2 separate regions of the Homo sapiens genome follow, and region 2 is reported to be linked to region 1. Evidence: microRNA targets listed by miRTarBase, many of them from high-throughput screens and not tested one by one. Region 1 holds a microRNA gene; the other region holds the end of a gene's coding sequence.
The links. Region 1 holds the annotated microRNA hsa-miR-3681-5p (UAGUGGAUGAUGCACUCUGUGC, at 5,213-5,234, opposite strand). A microRNA usually pairs through its seed, bases 2 to 8, with sites in the 3' UTR of a target mRNA and lowers its output. Matches are read on the target gene's strand: a 7mer-m8 pairs with bases 2 to 8, a 7mer-A1 pairs with bases 2 to 7 and ends in A, and an 8mer does both.

Region 1 (10,791 bases):
CAAGATGCGGCCTATTTCCATTTCGGGCTCACCTCCCAACACCTCTGTGATTTAAACCCCAGGGAAGCCAACCTACTTAGGTTCTCCAAACCCACGCTGGGATTTACACATCCTCCCTTTCCACACCCTCCACAGAACCCCTCCATGCCTTTCTTCTCTCCACTTTCCTTGGGGTTTGGCCGGTCCCCTCCAACCTAGGAAAACAGTAGAAGGTCACGTTCTTCTTACATTCTCACATTACAAAGCAAGATCCCCATCCTTCAGCCCCTCCCACACCCAGGTTCCCATTAACTCCCCTACTTCATGTGAGATGAGAAACAAGTGCTCCAAGGTTTTCTGCTCAGCTGCATTTCCAGCCCCCACGCTTTTCCCTTATGCAGGCAATACACTACCCAGAAAACAGAATAAAAGAACAACACAGAGGATAAGTTGCAACGGTTAAAATATCTCATAACGTTCAGTGTCCACAAACTCAGATCCACCATCTCTCCATCCCATGCAGTGTGGCCTCTCTGCGATCCTGGCATCCTCATTGTACTTCTGGCCAGCCTCTCCCTCTGCAATTCTGGCCTGATCCTCTGTGGTTCTGATGGGACTTTTGCTCTGAGATCCTGGCCTCTCTCTCTCTGTGATCCTGGCCTGACTCTCTGTGATCCTTATCAGCCTTCATATAACAGGGAGCAAGCTGCTTTGTCTCTCATGAGAGTTCTCATGCCTAACTCTCATGTGACCTCAAAGAGAAAAGAGCTTTGTCTTCTCTGTCCAACATTGCCCCCCACCATCCTATTCCAGCAGGATTGATAATGGAAATATCTACTTCCTCTTTGGGGGAACCCCATTATCACCCACAAGAATGTGGTCCTGAATTATAGTCCAAAAAGGAAAATAAAATTTCATCGGAGCAAAATGTTTGAACTCCAGTACATTTGAGGTTACTTAGTCTTGAATACTGTGAGCAGGACATCAACCGTGCAGCAGGAAAAACTCTGATTCTGTCCTTTTACATGGTCTCCAGCTAGAAGTAAATGGAAAGCAGCCATGCATGCTTCGCCTTTAGCCATGTGGCTCCTGGTACTCAGGCTCCGATAAGCAAATGCATGAACAAAAACATGCAGAGGCTTACTCTCTCCAAGAGCAAATCAAAATTGACCTGAATTCTGATGCATACATTGAGGAGCTAGGTTTACAGTTTGCAAATTCTGTGTGTTTTTAGGGAACTTTATTCTCTGCAAACTTCATTGCAACTTTTGGAATATTTCTTTTTCCTGTGTTAGGGTTCAAGATGATTTTAGTTTTCCTGAGAATAGGCGGCATTTGCTTTGCATTTGTAGAACAGATAGATTCATGGTGCTCAGGGGAAAATCTTCTCTCCTCCCAGTAAAGCTGTGAGCACTCTGGCCTTTGGACATTCTCCAGCCTCTCCTCCTGCTGCTGTCTGCTTTGCTATCCTCACACTTCAGCACCAGGGGCCTCCTTTCCATTGTTGAAGAAGGCCAAGAACCTAAAGTGATTCTCGGCACTAGCGCCTTCACACATGCTATTCCATCTGTCTGGACAACGATCTCTCTCCGTCCTACCATTCATTTTTGAGTCTCCCAAACTCCTCCTATCCTTCAAGCACCTCCAGGTGACCTTCTGAGGACTCCCCTCCAGCATCCCCAAGCAATGTCAGGACCACCTCTGGCCTTTGCAATGTTTACATCTGAGTTGATAAACAGGATCGGGCTTCCTACTTACTAACTATACACACTGGCTCCGATGTAAAACCATTCGCTCCTCTTCTATCCTCCCAAGAGAGAGAAAATTGAACAGCATCCTCCCCCAGAAATTCTTTACATATTTGAAACCAGTTGTTTTCCTTGCACCATTCTTACGTAAGTCTGTGTTTCTTTACAGCACAGGCAACGCTTGTCTTTCCAAACAGATTCCTGAGCTCCAGGGCTGCAGGAGCCACATTCTTCTCCTTTGCCTACCTTCAGTGCCCGGCCAAGTTCGCTTAATTAATATCTTTGAATGAAACAAAGACTTAATCTGGCCCAGATTTAAATTCTGAATTATTTGGTAGATTAAACACACACACACACACACACACACACACACACAAACACAGATATAGAGAGAGATTTGTAAGCTATGAAATGGCAGGTTTTACCTTCTTCTAAGTGAACATATATTAAGTACACGTGAGGATTCTTTTCAGCCACAGAGCATTCTGTTACACTTAATTCACAGATGTAGTCTCCCTCTCAGTCTCCAGCCGAAAGGGACACAGATATTTCAGTAAGTATTTCTGTCATTTCGGCTGCCTGCCTCTCTCCCCAGCAACCCACACACTCCCTCTACTCTACAGTCGAATCTCACCTGCGTTTGACCTGCTCCATGAAGCCCCCTGTTCCATTCAACCACATGTGCCCCCATCCTGGCTTGGACTTAAATTCCATAAACATTTTCTTTAAGGATATCGTCACACTCCACCATGCATTATCATCATCTACATAATTGTCTTATTTTTTTCTTACTCATCAGCTTGTGAAGTTGTACTGTGACACTTGAGACCGTGGGCAATGGATAGCTTAAGAGAGGCATGATCTCTTAGAAGACAACAAACAGATCTGGAGTAGGACCAACTTCACTTCGTCTGAAACAGACTCACGGTATAACCTTAAAAAATGCTGTGAGCCTGCGCAGAGCTCGACTTCTTTACCCATAAATTCAGACTTTTCTGATCTACCTCATGGGACTGTGAAGGTTAAATGCAACGTTGGTTGTCATGTGCAGGGTCACCATGAGCTCAAACACGGCTCTCCTGCTATTCTTGTTAACATTGGCAGGCAGAAGGGGAAGTTCAGGAAGATTGCTTCCTTTTTCTTGTTACTGGATGATAGTCATCTATGACTTGACTTTTGCAAAGATTTCTCTCCTTTGAAGATAAAGAAACTCTGTCCCCACACCACAATTTCCATTTTCAAAAACTGAAATTGTGGCTCAATTAGAATGTGATCATCACTACTTATACTCAAAAACTTATCGCTGCTACTAGTATAAAATAATAATTCCTCAAATGTGAACACCAGGCCATATCACTGTTTGCTGTTTATGGGGAACTTGACTCTACCCATTTAAGTAAGTGGTGCTTGAGACAATCTGCTAAGGACAAGGGGTCCTGTGATTTTTGCCTGGGACTCTCTTGCCATAATTCAGTCGGTAGATCTAGGCCATTGGAAAAGCCACCAATGTTTGTTTGGGGGATGACAAAAGATTGATGAACAACTTGTGATTACAACTTCTGTATCCTAATCAGAAATTCTCTTGTGTTTTTTTTTTTTTTTTTCTTACAATAAATTTTCTAATCTGAACATGCTGAAAATTTGCCTTTATATTTCCTGGATGGAAATAGTGCACAATCCTTATGCCTCTTTGTGTAACCTCTAGACCCTTCTTGTCTTATCCACTATGAACCAAAGAGCTATTTCTGGGACCCTTTACTCATCCTTCTCTGTTCTCTCTGCTTGGAATTCCATTCCAGGTTCAACACAAATATATCTTTGACATGAAGAGATACCTAATCTTTGCCTTGCCCATTTTAAACCAATAGAATTAAAAATAAATTAATAAAATAAGTTATTCTATCATCAGATATATGTATATCTAGTCTCATAAAATTGTATGTGTGTTTTACAATATTTAGTCCCTGTTTTACTAAAAATATTTGTGGACCCAGCTTGCCTTCCTCATGTCACTAAAAATATATATATTGAGTACCCACTATTCCCCTAAAATATTTACCAAGCACCTTCTAAGAGGCCTTTTAGTAGATATCCAGTAAATATTTTTAAATGAATGAATGTTTAGCTACACCATCCAATACGGTAGCCACTAGCCACATTTAACTACTCAAATTTAAATTAACTGAAATCATATACAATAAAAAATTCATCTTGTACCCCCATTTCAAGTGCTCAGTAGTCACAAATGGCTAGCGACTACAGTATCAGAAAGTGCTGTTATGGGACCCTTCATCACAGCAGAAAGCTCTACTGGGCAGTTCTGAATTCAATACATGAATGAATAAATGCCTGAAAGAATGAATGAACAATCCATCAGGAGGCTCCCAAGCCACCCCCTCTGCAAACTCTCTGACTTCAAGGATGGATTAAACTACATAATATTAACATTTCACCTAATTTAGAGATCAGCTTCCACTTAGGGAAGTGTCACAGCTTGGATTATTTAAAAGGAGCTCAGGAAAGCAGTGAGCACATCCTGCAGGCATGGCTGCTGCTGTTCCACAGACCCATCAGCCACATTATGACAGGAGCGCTTTCCAGCTCCAATTTGTCTAATTCTCATCTGTTATATTAACAAAGAATGCCTGGCCAGAACATGTCACTCAGCTCCACAAAGAGCTATTTCCGTCTTCTGTCTTCTTCCAGAACTGCAAAGATTGATTTTAGGAAGATAATCATTTTTGTGTATTTCTGCACACAGGCTGGCTGCAGCTGTTCCCAAATGCAACATCAATACATGTTTTATGAGTCAGTTTTTTGTGGGGTTTTTTTGGTTTTTGTTTTTTTTTTTTTTTTTTTTTTTTTTGGTAACGTGTGAAGCTAATCATGTTGAGTACGACATAAAAAGCATTTGCCTTGAAATCTCAAGCGCTGTGTCCCATCACTCAATCTTGCTGTGAGCACAGATTTCCTTGAAATGTTTCTGGTCGGGACTGAATGTGTTGAATCTCAATTTTGTATTTCAGCTCCATTCTACGATACAGCAGGGTGAGAACGTGAGTAGCCTTCACAGTTGGGCTTCTGTCTTAGCCTGAGCCATTGAGACAAAAAAACCTAAGACTTTATTTGGGATGTGCAAACCCAGGAAAGAGAGGAAGAAGTGAAGTAAAGGCAAAGAAATCTGGGATGCCAGGTGAAGTGATGCATCACCTTGCTGCTCCTTCCCCACAAGCCTTGAAGTTACAACTGGCAGCCCTAGGCTTGTCCAGGAAAATTACAACGAATATCTCTGTCTTGGGGTAGCACATGGGAGAAACACAGGAGGGGGAATAACCCAGCTAGCTCCTTCCTATTTCCTGTTTCCATTGATCCATTTGCCACTTGGACAGTTAACACCCTCAGAATTCCAGGTTGCACTGGACTCCTGAACAGTAGCTCATGACACTTCCAGTAGTGGATGAAGCACTGTGTGCACAGTTGGCCCTGCACAGAGTGCATCATCCACTACTGGAAGTAGACAAGTGTCTCCTTGAAGATGGGCTTGGTGTGCAGGGCTTGTGAGCCAGGCAGGCTGGGGACTTCCAGCCATCTCGTGGACGTCCCATCAGAGGTTGTTGGTAAGCAGGTCTGGGAGGCAGGCTGTGCTTTAGAGGGAAGGAGACAGTCAGATAGTGAAGGGAACCCAAAGGGGCACAGGATTTCTTCATCCAGTACAGCTTCTCTGCTCGCATGCTTACAGGATTCATCTTCCGTGGCAGGAATTGTTATTTTTAAAAGGAAAATTATGTTCCTCTCCAGGCTCTTTAAAGTATGCTATCCTGATAGAAAAGGCCTTACAGGTAAGCAAATCCTAGTCCTCCAATGTTGCATGTATAAAAATTAATATTAAATAATTGGTGTATGATAGACTAGAGATGTTAAATACCTCGCTTACTAGAAGTAAGTGCCCCCTCCAGCCAACCAGGAAAAGGAGCTCAAATGTTCTAATGCTTCTGTTGCCTCTCTGTACAACAGATAAATCATGTTTATGCAGTGATTGGCGAAGGAAATGAGCATGCAGCAGTGACGCCTGATGCTGAAAGGTGTCACTGGGGTTGCTCCTAAGGAGTCTGAGAGCCTCCCAGGAGCTGGGGTCCACTCAAACCTGGAGGCTCTTCATGCAGCATGCTGAGAGCTCTAGATAATCTCCAGGTAGGTGAGGCCCAGGGAATGTGGGGAGAAGAAATAATGGAGAATCTCACTTTCTAGAACCTGGAGTCAGGTGCCTCAGATAACTCCGAGGGTCAGGAAGATGAAGCTCAGTGTGTGCAGGGAAAAGAGGCCTGCATTCAGATGGGGGAAGTGTAGGAGCATTGTGCATTGTGGGGACGGCACCAGGGGACCCCAAAAACTATAAGCTTCAGTAGTTTGAGGACAATTTAATGAAGGGCCAATGGTATCCATCATGTTAAAGAGGTAAGAGGAGCACTAAGGTTGTTTAACAGAACATGGATGTGATCACATTTGTTTTGTCATTCTAGTTGCTGTGTAGAAAATGGAACTGGAGAGGATTTTCTAGAAGGAAAGAAACAAGTTTACAGGGAGTTGCTATGGACCAAGTGCGGAGTAATAAGGGTCTTCATATTTGAGAAGCTCGTCTTACTCATCTGTAAAATCATATTAATATGTGCCTCAGAGTGAAATTAAAAAATTAATTATTCAATGTCTTTATAGTTCTCCATCCACAGTAGTTTTGTTGACCAGACTTAAGTTGGCGCCCATGATGTGCTCCTCCTGGAGTCATGCTGCTGTAGAACTCACACACTTGACTGTGGGTGGGACGTTCGACTTGCTTCTAACCAATGGAATACAGCGAAAGGAACAGATTTCACTTCCTTCACAATGTTGTATAAGATTGTAATGACTATCACACCGAAAAACTCTCTTTCCTCTTGGTTTTGAGAAAACAAGCTGTCATGTTGTGCACTGCCCTATGGACAGTTATGTGGCAAAAAATTGAGGACAACTGGCAAGAAACTGAGGCCCTCAGTTCAGCAGCCTGTAAGGATTTCAATGCTACTAGTAACCATCTAAGCCTATAAGTGTATCCTTCCCCAGTTGAGCCTCAGATGAGTACTCAGTTCTTACTGACACCTAGTTTGCAACCTTAAAAAGGGCCCAACTAACGCATGCCCAGACTCCTAATCCACAGAAACTCTGAGATAATAAATGTGTGTGGCTTCCAGCTTCCAGGTTTGTGGTAATACTGTCATGTAGCAGTAGATAGCAGTTTCCCCACAAACTTAGTTCCCTCACTTTGCACTACCTACCCTGTCACAGCACTGAAATGCTAAGTGTGAGCAATACTACTAAAACCATTCATTTCCTGCCTCTCTCTTTAAGTATACTGATATGGTTTGGCTGTATCCCCACCCAAATCTCATCTTGAATTGTAGCTCCCAAAATTCCCATGTGTCCTGGGAAGAACCCAGTGGGAGGTAATCAAATCCTGGGGGCAGGTCTTTTCTGTGCTGTTCTCAGGATAATGAATAAGCCTTATGAGATCTGATGTTCTTATAAAGCAAAGTTCCCCCCGTACAAGTTCTCTCTTTCCTGCCACCATGTAAGATGTGACTTGCTCCTCCTTCCCTCCACCATGATTGTGATGATTCCCTCCAGCCGTGCGGAACTGTGAATCCATTAAACCTCTTTTCTTTATAATTCACCCAGTCTTGGGTATGTCTTTATCAGCAGCATAAAAATGGACTAACACACCTACCTATAAAAGATGTTTAAGCTTCCAAAGAATTTTAAAAGGTCGGGGAATTTTAGGGGAAGGGGGTAAAAAACACTAAACTTCATTTATAAACAGCACAGTAGGCACTGGTCTACCCCTTAGTTATACCCAGTGACAAGCATCAGTATCCACTGCCTAGGCTGTGAGTAATTACTGAAGTACATCTGCTCTCTGTGTCTAAGTTTCACCTCATTTTTACTAGTGACCTTTGCCTCTAGCATTTTTGCTTTGGCAAGTTCTCAGCCTCACTAATGTCCCAGTTCTTTTCTCAGGGCTCACACACAAACCACTTCCATTGCTCAGTTATATTTTTACTGCTATCTTGCAAGCACACAAAAATTGTTCAAGGAAGCTGGACTTCCTTGTGTATTCTCATCCAAACGCCTTCTGCTTGACTACTGTGTGTGTGTGGTGGGGGTAGGAGGGACATTACTGTCCTTCTTTTACCCAGAAGATAGGGTCCTGTCTGAATGACTTGCTTCCAGCACTGGATTTAATTTTTTTCCCTTATATCTCACTTTCAAATATCTCCTGAACTATAAAGGCTGGAAATAAATGTTGTCTTTTTCTGGCAACATCGCCCACCTGGGAATAAGAAACCATTTCATGCTCACTAGACAAAGTTTGTGCCTATGTTTTGTATATTCAAGATGGGGTGATATTTTCTGGGTTGCTGATTGTTTTCATTTTATACAACACAACCATTTAATTAGCTATAGTTTATCATGTCTACTTGGGAACGGAATAAAAATCAAAATTTCAAGTGAAGACTACAGCTGCCACCCTAGGAAAGATAAAGTAAATCATAGTTACAATTAATCAAGGGTCTCAGAAAGTGCTGGGTATTTAGCAGGTCATATTGTATTTGACTCTTACTGAACTCTACAAGATGGGTTCTGCAATAATCCCATTTTACAAATAAAGAGGATATTTAGGCTTTTGTGAACCTCCACTGGTCAAGGCAGAGCTGCTTCAAGTTGGCTTCAAATATCAAGCTCTTGCTCTGCAGAAAGAGGTGACTTGGACTCTCAAAGAGACACTGAGCCCCATACAAACTGCATTCTCAATACATTCTAGAGTTGTTTCTGTTCTTTCTTCCAATCCAAATGTAGCACTTTTTCCTCATGTAGTTTAACTATCTAATCACACAAAAATGTTATCAAAATTGAAGGCTGTGTTTTTGCTTCAAGATATTTTAAAATCGTAGTGAAAATTGGTTTTTTGTAAATCTTTCTACGTTTATATGCAGGACTACACAAATGAAGATGATAACCCATTTTCAGAATTAGTATGAGCAACTCCTCCCACATGCCTCTACTGCCTGCTCTTTTCTTTATTCTTAGCCTTTCTTTGAGAAATTTAGATCAATTTGAGCTCATAAAACATAAAAATCAGTAATAAAAATGTTTACTATCTATAAATGTCTATATTGGAATTAGTTCACTAAATTTTAATGAAACGGTACAACATTCGATTTTACAGAATATTTCAAATTTTTCATTAATGTCTTGTCTGACAAGATCCCTCCTGCCATTTTCAATTTGTATTTTAAAGCAAAAACTGTGCATGTCCTCAACTCACTGACTCATTTGATGAGAGCAACAGGGTGTAATTTGCAAGCAAGTGGAGACCTTGATGAATGGGCTAGCTGAATGTCATGAGACCTCTCAACGACTGTAATTTCTGTCCCATGGTTCCTAGGAGTCATATAGATTGCAGAGGGTAGGTCAATCCATGTCACTGTGACAGACAGGAGTGCCAATTGCAAATGCTTTTGAGTGCAAAAGAACAATGATGCATTCCTATTTTCTTGTGAAGGAGATCATGGGTGAGTGTATGTTGTGGCATGGAAACTGGGTCCACCAAACAATTCAACCCTGCTCCATCTGGGAAATCCCCTTTGTTAAAGTCAGTGGAATCAAAACATGTTCTGTATAAAAGTTGCTTCAACCCCACTTAGGAACACCACAAAGCAGTAAGTGGCAATGGAACTAGCTACCTTGCTCTGGAATAGAAGATTGCACACATCCTTGAATACCTGTCCCTAGCCAAGGTAGCAGCACGGTTCTCAGGTACCTGTGATGACTCCAGCCTGCATGATGTTGGAGAAGATATATTTATGGGTCAAGATGCCAATGATCACCTAGCTATGACTATACTTATTTCCTCACTGAAGAAATTGCAGCATAGAAAGGACGATTTCCAAGGTTGTACAGCCAGTTAAAGGCACAGTCAGATACAGGAAAAGCAGATCCCTGTTCTTGAGACTTGAATTGAAATACCCCAGATCTGGAAGAAAAGATTAAAGTGAGCTTTCAGCACTAATTCAAAGGTGGCCATATTTTGCCTATTATACATAATGTTGCAGTGAACGTAAGAGTGCAGATATCAAACAAATATTTCTTTAAGATCCTGATTTTATGTCTATTAGCTATATACCCAGAAGTGGGATTTCTGGAATATATGATAATTCTATTTTTATTTTTAAAGAACCTCTATACTGCTTTCCATAATGGCTCAACCATTTTACATTTCCACCAACAGTGAACAAGTTTTCCAATTTCTCCATATCCTTGCCAACTGTCCTAGTCTGTTTTGTGCTCCTATAACAGAATATCTCAGGCTGAGTAATTTATAAAGAACAGAAATTTGTGTCTCACAGTTCTGGAGGCTGGAAAGTCCAAGATCAGGTGCCAGCCTCTTGTGAGGGCCTTCTTTCTGCATCATCTTATGGTGGAAGGGCAAAGAAGTGGTGATAGCAAGAGAAAGAGGGGCCTGAGCTCATCCTTTTATAAGGAACCCACTCTCTGATAATGGCATTCAACATCTCTTAAAGGCCCCATCTCCCAACACCTTCACAATAGGTATCACGTTTTCAACACATGACCTTTGAGGGACACATTTAAACCATAGCACCATCTTTTGTTTTTTTTAGAATAGTCACCCTAACAGGTGTGAGATGATATCTCATGATTTTGATTTGCATTTCTCTGATGATTAGTGATGTCCAACATTGGATAATGAATAATGAAAATGTAATCTATACATACAATGGGATATTATTCAGCTTTGAAAAAGAAGGGAATCTTGTCATATGCAACAACATGGATGAACCTGGAAGACATTATGCCAAGTAAAATAAACCAGTCACAGAAAGGCAAATACCATATAAATTCGACAGATATGAGGCATCCAAAACAGTCAAACTCATAGAAGCCGAGAGTAGCATGGTGGTTGGTAGGGATTTGGGAGGAAATGGGGAGGTGCTGTTCAATGGATGTAAAGTTT
Region 2 (10,791 bases), not on the chromosome of region 1:
AGCCACCATGCCTGGCCTTTTTTGGCTGGTCTCGACATCTTGGGCTCAAGCAATCCTCTCATCTCAGCCTCCTGAAGTGCTGGAATTACAAGCATGAGCCACTGCGCCCGGCCAACACATTCATTTTAAAATGGCCTTAAAAAAATCACTGGTTTATGTAAAAGAACTTGAATTTCCTACACACATTTCGCAGCAAGTATTTGCCATGTACTTAGACTGTGTGTTGAAATCTGGTCTCATGATGGTAAGAAGCTACCTAAATACCTAGATCCTGCTTAAGGGAGTGGCAATCTTGTGACCTGTTTCTCACTCAATGTCTAATGGATATTTGGCAGCCATGTCCTGTTGCTTCCTCTAATCAACACCCTCCTAAATGAAGCAGTAAGGGAGAAAACCAATGAAAACACGCATGCAAGACATGTATCGTGAGAGTGACAGCTGACAATCATGATAATTTGAATCTAACCTTTGCATTTTAGAGGAGAAAAGCAAATTCATGATGCTAACTCATGGCAGACCCCTTAGAACACAGGTCTTGATTCCCAATCTGGCCTTCTTTTTTTTTTTTTTTTTTTTTTTAGCTGGAGTTTCGCTGTTGTTGCCCAGGCTGGAATGCAATGGTGCGATCTCGGCTCACCGCAACCTCCACCTCCCGGGTTCAAGCGATTCTCCTGCCTCACCCTCCCAAGTAGCTGGGATTACAGGCATGCACCACCATGCCCGGCTGATTTTGTATTTTTAGTAGAGACGGGGTTTCTCCATGTTGTGTCCTGACCTCAGGTGATCCGCCCCGCCTAGGCCTCCCAAAGTGCTGGGATTACAGGCATGAGCCACCGTGCCCGGCCCTGGCCTTCTTTTTATAGGAAGTCATGATTCAAACCTGACTCCAGCCTGACCCTACTTTAATCCCTTTAAAGCAGCAAAAATATACAGCAGTTTCCCCTTGAGAAAGCAACTTGAAGCAACAGTTTGGTACAGATTCTGCTAAGAACAAGCACATTTTTAATCTCAGGCCCCTCTCACAGGGCAATTTCCTCAATGCCTGGAGTGCTTTCTGAGATCCCAGAACAACGGGCTGGACAGCTGCCCAGAGGCCTCTAGGGGGCTGTGGAAGGCTGAAGAGGCAGGGGGGATCTGGATCACAAAATAGAGGAGACTATTTTCTCTGAACAGGAGTGAGAAACCTTATGTTGGGGAATGATTAGATTCTGGTTTCTTGCCTTAAAAGATTGTCCTGGAGGCCAGGCACAGTGGCTCACACCTGTAATCCCAATGCTTTGGGAGGCCAAGGCGAGAAGATTATTTGAGGCCAGGATCCTATACTGAGGGGGCACCTCTTTCAGTGTCTACAGTAGAGATCCTGACAGAGGGTGGATCGGTCGGCTGTTCAGTGGGATGTATTGACTGGATCAGTTGATTCTGGGCTTGATCTAGAGTATGCAGCAAATGCAACAGGCTCACATCTTAGAGGAGCTCTCCAGGGTGCGGAGGTCAACAGTGTCAAATCCTGGGAAGAAGTCGGTGGCAAGAGTGGGAATTAGGTCACTGAGAAGTGATGATGGCAGAAGCTAGACTAAGAACCACAGAGAGTCAACACAGAGCAAAATGAATGTCAACCAAAGGAGAGGGCAGCTGAGAGGGGACACAAGGACACACAGGCTTTTTAGGATGGGAGATGCCTGAACATGTTCCTAAGGGAAGAGTGAGACACGGGAGCAGACAGGGTAATTAATGGAGCAAGGTCCCCAGGGTGGAAGAAGTTGGCCTCAAGGGCACAGGTGGGGTGCCAGCATACACAGAGGGGGCACCTCGTCCAGCATCTCCAGTAGAGGTCCCCACAGAGGATGGGGAACAGCCCCTATACTACAGTTCCTTCCCACTCTCCCACACCAACCACCCAGCCCCTCTGGGAGGCATCAGATCAGAACAGTGGGTCTGCCCAGCAGCAGCCCCGGGGACTATTGGACATGCACATTCTCAGGCCTCATCCCAGACCTGCTGAATCAGAATGCGGGGGAAGGAGCCCGGCAACTGGTGTTTTAAGGAGCCCCTGGCAATTCTGGTGCTCACTTGAGTTTGAGACCAGGGACCAGGATGGCAACTCTCAACTCTGCTGCTCACTATGATCCCCCCGGGAAGGTTTTTTTTGTTGTCGTTGTTTTTGAGACAGAGTCTCACTCTGTCGCCCAGGCTGGAGTGCAGTGGCATGATCTTGGCTCACTGCAACCTCCACCTCCCAGGTTCAAGCAGTTCTCCTGCCTCAGCCTCCCAAGTAGTTGGGATTACAGGCACAGGCCAAGCCCAGCTAATTTTTGTATTTTTAGTAGAGACAGGGTTTCACCATGTTGGTCAGGCTGGTCTCGAACTTCTGACCTCAAGTGATCCGCCCGCCTCAGCCTCCCAAAGTGCTGGGATTACAGGTGTGAGCCACCGCGCCCGCCCCCCTCACCCCCCCAGGAAGGCTTTAAATGCTGATGCCTAAGCCTCACCCATAGATTCTGATTCTACTTCCGTCAGTATCGAATGCCTCTCCCCAGGTGCTCCTGCTGCCCTATGAGCATTGAGAACCCTGAGGTAAGAAGGAGAAGAGAACAGAGGGAGAGGAGCTGGTTTTAGCTTTGGTTTCCCCATGTTGTTTAATTTTGGGGTGGGATGGGAATTCTTGAGGTAGCCTTGGAAGTCACTTACCAAGAGTAGTGGGCACATATGCAATGAGAGAGCAAAATAGTGTGCAGGGATCACTGAAAAGAATGGGAGAGAGAGGAAGGAGTTGCCTGAAGACCAAGGGCAGAAATCCCAAAAGGCAGGCAGAGCCCAACGAAGAAGGGCAGCCAGACAGCCCTGAAAGCCGAATCCATGGCACCCAGATGATCTTCTCCAAGGGTCATCCCCAGTCCAGATATGGAAGGAGCAGGGGGCCAAGCCAAGGCGGGATCTGCACGAAGCAGCAGCAGGGCCACCTCCGGGCAAGAGTGTGACTCCAGGGAGTCAGCTCAGCTGACAAGACACAGAAAGCTGCCCGTCTGCATGTCACGTGACCTGTCCACACACAGTCCTCCTTTACCACCACGTCCTTGGCGTACCCACATCCTCATTGCGCTGAGGTTGTCCAAGCTACCAAGACTTGAGGCAGGGATTCTCACAGCACCGTCCAGTGTTAAACTGCCCTTAAGGTCACTATTACAGTTATGATGAGCCCTAACAGTATGTTAGGGATAAACAGATGCCCACCTGATTCCCCAGTGTCCAGACACCTGGGCTTTTTCCTAACTAGAAGACTCGGAGTTCACCCACTGCCTACTTCCCATGCCTAGGATTCTCCCTGGGTTCCCTGTACTGGTAAGATGCCAACACGTCCACTAAGTCAGATTGAATCTCTCACCACCTGAAGGCCTTCCTGAAACCATCGGTGAGCCGCTTGCTTCCCTGGCTACTACTTGGCCTCCGAACCCAACTAACCACCCTAGCAGAAATCATCTTAAACTCCACCCAGAACATTCCACCCTATCTGTCATCTCACCTCTTGAGTCCATCTCCTAAATATCCAAGTGACCTCACTTCTAGCCTATGCTACTAATGCCAATCTCTTAGCTCTAGCCTTGGCCACTTCTCAGCCAACCTGGCGGCTGGTCATGCTCACCTGCTGTTCTCTGCACTCCACCAGCCGCCTTTCAGGCCATCAGGCAGCCTGGAATCCACTATCAGCCTCAGGAGTCTAAAAAGCACATCAGACCTTGGTAACCCTTCTTGTCCAAACTGTCAAACAAAACCTGCCCTGCGCTTTTGCACCTGACTTACAGTTAGCCAGCTGAGTCCTGCTGGCCAGCTCCCACTGCCAGCCCCCTTTCAGAATGTCACCTCACCCCACGGTGCTTCAGGCAGAGCTCATGACAGGCTCCTCATGGCCTCCCTGCATCTCCCTAACAGCACTCACCCTGCCCTGGAGCCGTCAGTCCTGCCGGTGGGACTCTGCCCGCCGCCTGCGAGACGACGTGAGTGTGTTCACTTTTATACACACCCAGAAGTGGCCCTAGTGTTTGGGAAACGGCAGTTAAGAATGGAAAAGCCTGTCAGGCGCGGTGGCTCACACTTGGAATCCCAGCACTTTGGGAGGCCAAGACGGGCAGATCACGAGGTCAAGAGATGGAGATCAGCCAGGCGCAGTGGCTCACGCCTGGAATCCCAGCACTTTGGGAGGCTGAGGCAAGCGGATCACAAGGTCAGGAGTTAAGAGACCAGCCTGGCCAACATGGTGGAACCCCATCTCTACTAAAAATACAAAAATTAGTCAGGCGTGGTGATGCGTGCCTGTACTCCCAGCTTCTTGGGAGGCTGAGGCAGGAGAATTGCTTGAACCCGGGAGGCAGAGGTTGCAGTGAGCGGAGAATCGTGCCACTGCACTCCAGCCTGGGCGACAGAGGGAGACTCTGTTCGGGAAAAAAAAAAAAAAAAAAAAGTAAAAACCACAGCCTCGCCCATGTCGCCACTGCACCCAGCGTTGGTGTCAGATCACCACCTCTCCAAGCCTCAGAACCCCCTCAACCGCTGCCCAGGCTACAACGCAAATGCCTTCAGACACAGCCTGGCTGGCAGGAAGGCCTCTGGGTCAGCAGTGTGCCCTGCTCTCTGCCACCCCTTTGGTTTGGATGCAGGAGCTGCCTCACCTCGCTTGTTCTTACTTGGCTGTCCTCATTTTGGGGTGTCCAGCCAAACCCCTAAAGAGAAGCGAAGACATGATGCCCTGTGTTTGGTGGATACCGTGGGGTGGAGAAAGCTTACTTCCAAGTTGCTAAAGGGAGATGCGGGGAGCCACACACATCAGGTAACAGCTGCAGAGCAGCATTCTCAACAGGAGCCGCTGCACGGCAACCCGCCTGCGCCCCGGGGTTCATTCAGCCTCTTGGTCACCTATTCACTAGGGCTGCTCTCATAACCTCCTGGTCACTGAGCTCCCTGCAGGGACCTACCTGCCCCTCCTAGCCCAGCCTCAACTTCCAGGACAGGTGGAATCAGCGAGACTGTGGTTGGGATGTACTTTAAAAAAAAAAAATCAAATGAAACCAACAAAGACACAGAACTCACAAAACCGGAGTATTTTATTGCACCAAGATCTTGGCAACACGTGGGGCTCCCCAGGCCCCCGGAAAGGAGGTGCAGAGGATGGGACACAGACCTCTGCACACACACAGGTGCGGCCATGCAACCAGGACGCGGGGCAGGCAAGTGAGAGGACCTGGGAGAGGTAGCTGCTGTACACAGGCCCCACTCCCTCCAGCTCCATTCCCAAGCACAAAATTCAACAGACCCAGATCCTAAGTCAACCAAGTGACTGCTATGACAAAGGCTTGGGTTATTGACATTTACTTACATACGTGTACAAGACCTAGAGTTTGAACTCGTTTTCTGGGCCTCATCTTTCCCTTCCCTATCTGGTTGATGACTTCGGTGGAGGGAAGGGACGTGACTCCACCCAACAGTGATAAACGCTGCAGAAAGTCATCTCGTGCTCACCACTGCCCAAGAGTTAACGAATGTATGTACCCCAGGAAAAGGTTTTACAGTTATCTAGTGGAGAAGGGAAGAGACTGATTTGGAGGAGAGAAGGGAGAGAAAGGAACGAGATAAATTCTGTGCCAGCAGACAACTAACATTTTCAACTACAGAACATCACACGGTAAACATGGCAGAGGGAACAGTTCACACAGGAATGCAAGTCAACACCCCGAGAAGAAAAGGAACATACCCTGCCCGTGAAGGCATGTGCTTTCCCTTCCAGATAAGTTACAAAGCCAGAGCACGGAAGCCAGGCCCTCATCTTTGAACATTCAGAGACTGGTCCGCAGGAGAGGGCACCCTGAGCAGCTCCACTCACTGCTGCTGGGACACAGGTGGCCACAGGAGCTTGATTCTCTCCCACCCTTCTAAGAAGAGAAACGTAAAAACAGAAGAAAATCCAAAAAGAGACACCCACCCACATGGAAAAAAATAAATGTATCTTCCCATATTAAAAAAGCAATTCCATCTACACGCCAGTAACCACCCAGGCCCCGAGCACAGGGGCAGGAAGCAAAGCTGCCCCAGGGAGAGGGGGTGCAGACAGCGAGGCAGCCACCCGGGACAGCAGGATGCCTCTGGCCCAGCAGAGCCACACTGAAGGAGGTCTAAGTCCAACACCACGTTGTCCATCTCCACCTGCGACGACTCCGGGAGGAAATGACGGGGACAGACCCGATGAGGAAGGATGTTCACGGTCACCTTCACACTTCCCACTACTATGAGGGCATTTGTCTTTTTCCTGAAAATATCACCTTCTCTGAGGATTTCCTGTATTTATTAAGTTACAAGTTGGCAGGCACAGCTTGAGCAACATAGAAAAGTAATCTTCTTGAGTTATACAATCATTTAAATTCCAAAGCACTCACAAAATTGAGCAAACAAAGCCACTATTTGCATATTTGGGAAAGGAAACATATTGCTAATGGAAGCCACAGGACTGGTCAAAAATAAATGTTTTGTATTAAGTAGTAAAATAAATGGAGAATTCTACCCCAAAGCCTCCACCTCAGTGAAGACCTGCGGGTTATTGCAGCTGCAAGGGAAGCTACAGCACAGTCGTCTCAGAATAAACAGCAGCCTGGAAAGCAGATGTATTCGCAGGTATCGAGGGCTCCTCCGACCCCAAATAGCCTCTGCTCTCCAGGACAGTTGAGAGCTACTCACAAGGAAGGGGTGCACAGTAGGGCCACCCTCTCGAGTTCCATAAAAGGGAGAGGTGGCTGGGTGGGGTCACCTCTTCCTTTCTGAGGACAGGTAAGGCCAACAGATGAAGGGGTCCCGCTGAGGAAGCAGGGGAGGGCGGGCTCGGACACAACGGTGGCGTCAGCCCCGAGAAGCAAGGGATGGCTTGCCCAGAGCCACCAGCTATGCACCGGGAGACCACCTGGGGGACATGTGGCCACCATCCCCCACTCTCCTGATAGCCCCAACCAGGGGCAGCAGCCTCTGCCAGCACAGACCACTGTCTATGAAACATGAGAAGGCACAGCCTGGCAAAGATGTCCAGCAGGTGTGCGGCCACCTCTGCTCACACACACACTGTCGTTTCTCTTGCAGGGCTGGTCGGGAATGTCACCAAAGAGGTTCCGATCTAGAGAAGCCTCAAAGCCTCTGTGTTGGGCGGTCTGTGGACACTGGTACCGGGAGAGCTCCTACCGTGACAGGCTCCCAGCGCAGCAGAGCCCACACAGAGAGCTCCCTCAGATCCAGACCGACAGCTCCCGGGAAGGGACGCCTTGTCTCCAGGAGGCTGCAGAACAAACCACGGTAGTCCTGACAGAGAGAAACGAGACCCGAATCTTCCCACTGCCACCCTCGGGTATGAGTCCAACCTAGGAACCCAATGCATGGCATCTCGATGCGGCTGGCAAGAAGTCACCCTTCTGCAAGTGACTGGGACACATGCCAGATATACACACAACCCACATCCCACACACACCCCACACATGCCCTTCTCCAAGTGACCAGAACACATGCCACAGATGCCAGGTGTACACACCCCACACCCAACACACACTACACACACCCCCTTATACACACGCATCCCACACACACCCCCTTATACACACGCATCCCACACACACCCTTCTCCAAGTGACTAGGACACACACCACAGACGCGCCCACACCACACACACCACCCAACACACATGTGCCAGATACACAGCCCACATACATCATACACACACGCCACACCCCACCACACCCCTACACACATACACGGCACACACACCCCCACCTCACCCTTACACCCACCCCCTCGGAACCGACCTCCTTCCACAGGGGCACAGTCAGCGGCGATAGCTGAGGCTGGCAGCCTTTGCTGGGTGAGTCACAGACCAGAAGTTCCGTCGAGTCTGAAGTTTCTGGAAGGCGTTGAAGTTTCTCCTCTTCTCTCTCTTAAATTTTTTAATTTTCTTTTCCTAGACCAAGAATCACAGGCATCACAGTTCCCAAAAACGGCTCTTTCCTGGCCCACGGGGCTCCATGCTGCATGCAGGTCCTGCACACAGGCCGGGCTCTCATGAGCTCTCTGGAGACCCACTCTTCACAATGACCCCTGTGCACGGCGACCTGCAGTCCCCCTATTGACAAAGGGGCGGAAGCTGCGAGGATGCATGCCCTGTCCATGGCCACACGCCCGGACAGGCCTGGGCAGCCTGGCTCTTCTCATGCTCGGCCGCTTCATGCCACTGCCGCCACCTCCAACTGCCCCGGCTCTGAGCTGAGCCACGCCGCCCTGCTCCCTCAAGCCTGTGGTCAGCATCACACATCATACCTTCCCTCGGTCAAACTCTTCGTCCCAGTCATCAACCACGGTCTCAGTCCGGGCCTGTCTGCTGTCTTCAATAGCATCCTGACTGACCGCCGACATCTTGCCATCCCAGGTCAGAACTACCAGGCAGACACGGGGGTCAGCACGAGTGCAGGTTCCCAGGTCCCCTGTGGCTTCACTTCAAGAGTGTCATTTACCAACTAGTCTACTCATAATTAGTCAACAATTTTGAGTGCCACCTTGTGGTGAAGAGAAGGACAAGAGGAGGACGGCTCGACGCCCATGTGTGGTCGGTCAGCATGGAACCCCCAGCGATGCCCTCTTAGCTAAACCCTAAACCACAGCCAAAGAGTTCAGTTCTTTCTAAACCCATGCCCTCGTCTGAGGAACAAAGATGTCATGTTTGGTCTCGAAGTCTGAATAAAAACATGCTCTGAGCAAGAAGTGACATTACCCAGGTTGGAAGAGCTTCGTCACTCTGCCCCTTCCCTACCCAAGACACAGCATGTGTGGGGCTCCTCACCCTGCCCCAACCCTCAGAAGCAGCTGTTCTGGATCCTGCCACGGACAGAAGCCACCTTCGTGCCACGGCTGAGGGTTTAAAGAGGACTCCAGCCAGTGTTGAGATTCCTCTTCCCATTCTCAAAGCCGAGCGATGCCCGCCCGCCACACTCACAGTGCACCAGGATCCATTCCACACCCTTCCCTCCTACAAAACCAACCAATGAAAGGCAAACAGAAGTCCTGTCTCCAAATCAGTACCTTTTCTCCCGTAAGCTTTATCAGATGAGTATTTGAGCAGTTCCTGGACCACATCAGACTCCCGCTCTCCATTCCAAGACACAGGAGGGGCCTGGCTCAGCCCTGCAATCGGAGCAGCCAAGAAACATTTACAGACGTTTAAAATAACCCACTGGGGAAGCAATCGCACACCTTAAATTATAAAACAACTTACAGTAAGTGGATGCTTGCCTTTTTTTTTTTTTTTTTTTTTTTTTTTTAAAGACAGGGTCTCACTATGTTTCCTAGGTTGGTCTCAAACTCCTTGGGACTCCCACTGGCCTCCCAAGGTGCTGGGATTACAGGCATGAGCCATGGCGCCCAGCCTAAATGCTTATTTACTAATGCTTACATGCTTAATTTACTAATGACCTGACACAATAGAGAAGGCTGTTGTCCAAGTCAATTCATGAGAAAGAAAACATGGAAAATAACAAAAAGCTAAAAACCAAAAAAAAAAAAACCCTCCAAAACCCCTTTAACCAGTAGTGTTAAGTCCTCAGTCTGACAGAAGGAGAGAAGAGAACTAGATCTAAATGGAATCCACCTCACCTACGGGAGAGGCCCATGCCCCAGGACCAGCCTGACACCTGGATGGCCACAGGGGTGGAGGGAACGGCCAAGCTTGGCTGCTGCCATCAGGGGCCCGACCTCCTAAGCCCTGTCCAGGGGGAACCTGGTCCCCATCAGCAACACCGCACAGGTCCACCCAGCACCTCGGGACCAGGACAGCACTCACCACCCTCATCGGGTTCTAGAAACCCTTTCTGAACTCGTCCTCTGCCCAGCTAGCCACATAGCCCCTGGAATATACTCACCTCCCTTCACACAAATCTGACCTCATTTCTCCCTGCCTCCAATTCCTCAGTGAGCTCCAGGCTAAGTGTCCCCTGCCCCCACACAGTGGCTTCCATGGTTCCCATCTCATCCACACAGCCCAGGGACCCGGCCATGCAGAGCAGCCTGCCTGCTCCCAACGTGCTGCGCCTCCTGCCCTTGGGTCTGGTGCCCTGCCCATTTAGCCACTCTCCTCAGGTGCACAGGACTGCAAGAGCCCATGCGGCCCCCAGCGCCTCCTTGCTGAGCATGAGCCCTTACTGTGTGGTTCTGGCTCTGCCAGGGAGCCCCGAGGGCCCAGGGCGCACTTCAGTAGACACAACCAGCACCTGGCATGGACCCTGGCGCACCGCAAGTGCTCAAGTGATGTCCCTTGCACTAACAAGCCAACTCCACTTCGCTCCGAGGGTGGCACGGAGCACAGCTCTGGTGCCATGTTAGGGCAGTATTTTTTTTTTTTTTTTTTTTTTTTTGAGACGGAGTCTCACTCTGTCACCCAGGCTGGAGTGCAGTGGCGCAATCTCGGCTCACTGCAAGCTCCGCCTCCTGGGTTCACACCATTCTCCTGCCTCAGCCTCCCGAGTAGCTGGGACTAGAGGCGCCCGCCACCATGCCTGGCTAACTTTTTGTATTTTTAGTAGAGACGGGGTTTCACCGTGTCAGCCAGGATGGTCTCGATCTCCTAACCTTGTGATCCGCCCGCCTCGGCCTCCCAAAGTGTTGGGATTACAGGCGTGAGCCACCACCCCCGGCCAGGGCAGTACTTCTGAGAGCATGCTGGCCAGCAAACTCAGTCGGCACTAGCTAGCACCCACGTTTTGCTATTTATTTCATACCATTTCA

Region 2: the mRNA of USP36 is a reported target of hsa-miR-3681-5p. Seed matches in the 3' UTR shown: 7mer-A1 at 5,567-5,573.

The regions. Positions count from the first base shown.
Region 1 is chr2:12,193,581-12,204,371 of GRCh38, reverse strand. It overlaps MIR3681 (microRNA 3681), which reads right to left and starts at 5,242; the gene lies at 5,171-5,242. All of the region lies in intron 3 of MIR3681HG (MIR3681 host gene), which reads right to left.
Region 2 is chr17:78,790,574-78,801,364 of GRCh38, forward strand. It overlaps USP36 (ubiquitin specific peptidase 36), which reads right to left. Exons shown (of 21, transcript NM_001385174.1): 18 at 9,094-9,195; 19 at 8,335-8,450; 20 at 7,827-7,978; 21 at 5,079-7,306. The coding sequence ends at 7,847. Among named protein-coding and RNA genes, the nearest start is that of CYTH1, 14 kb to the left of the region's middle. RefSeq lists an enhancer at 702-871.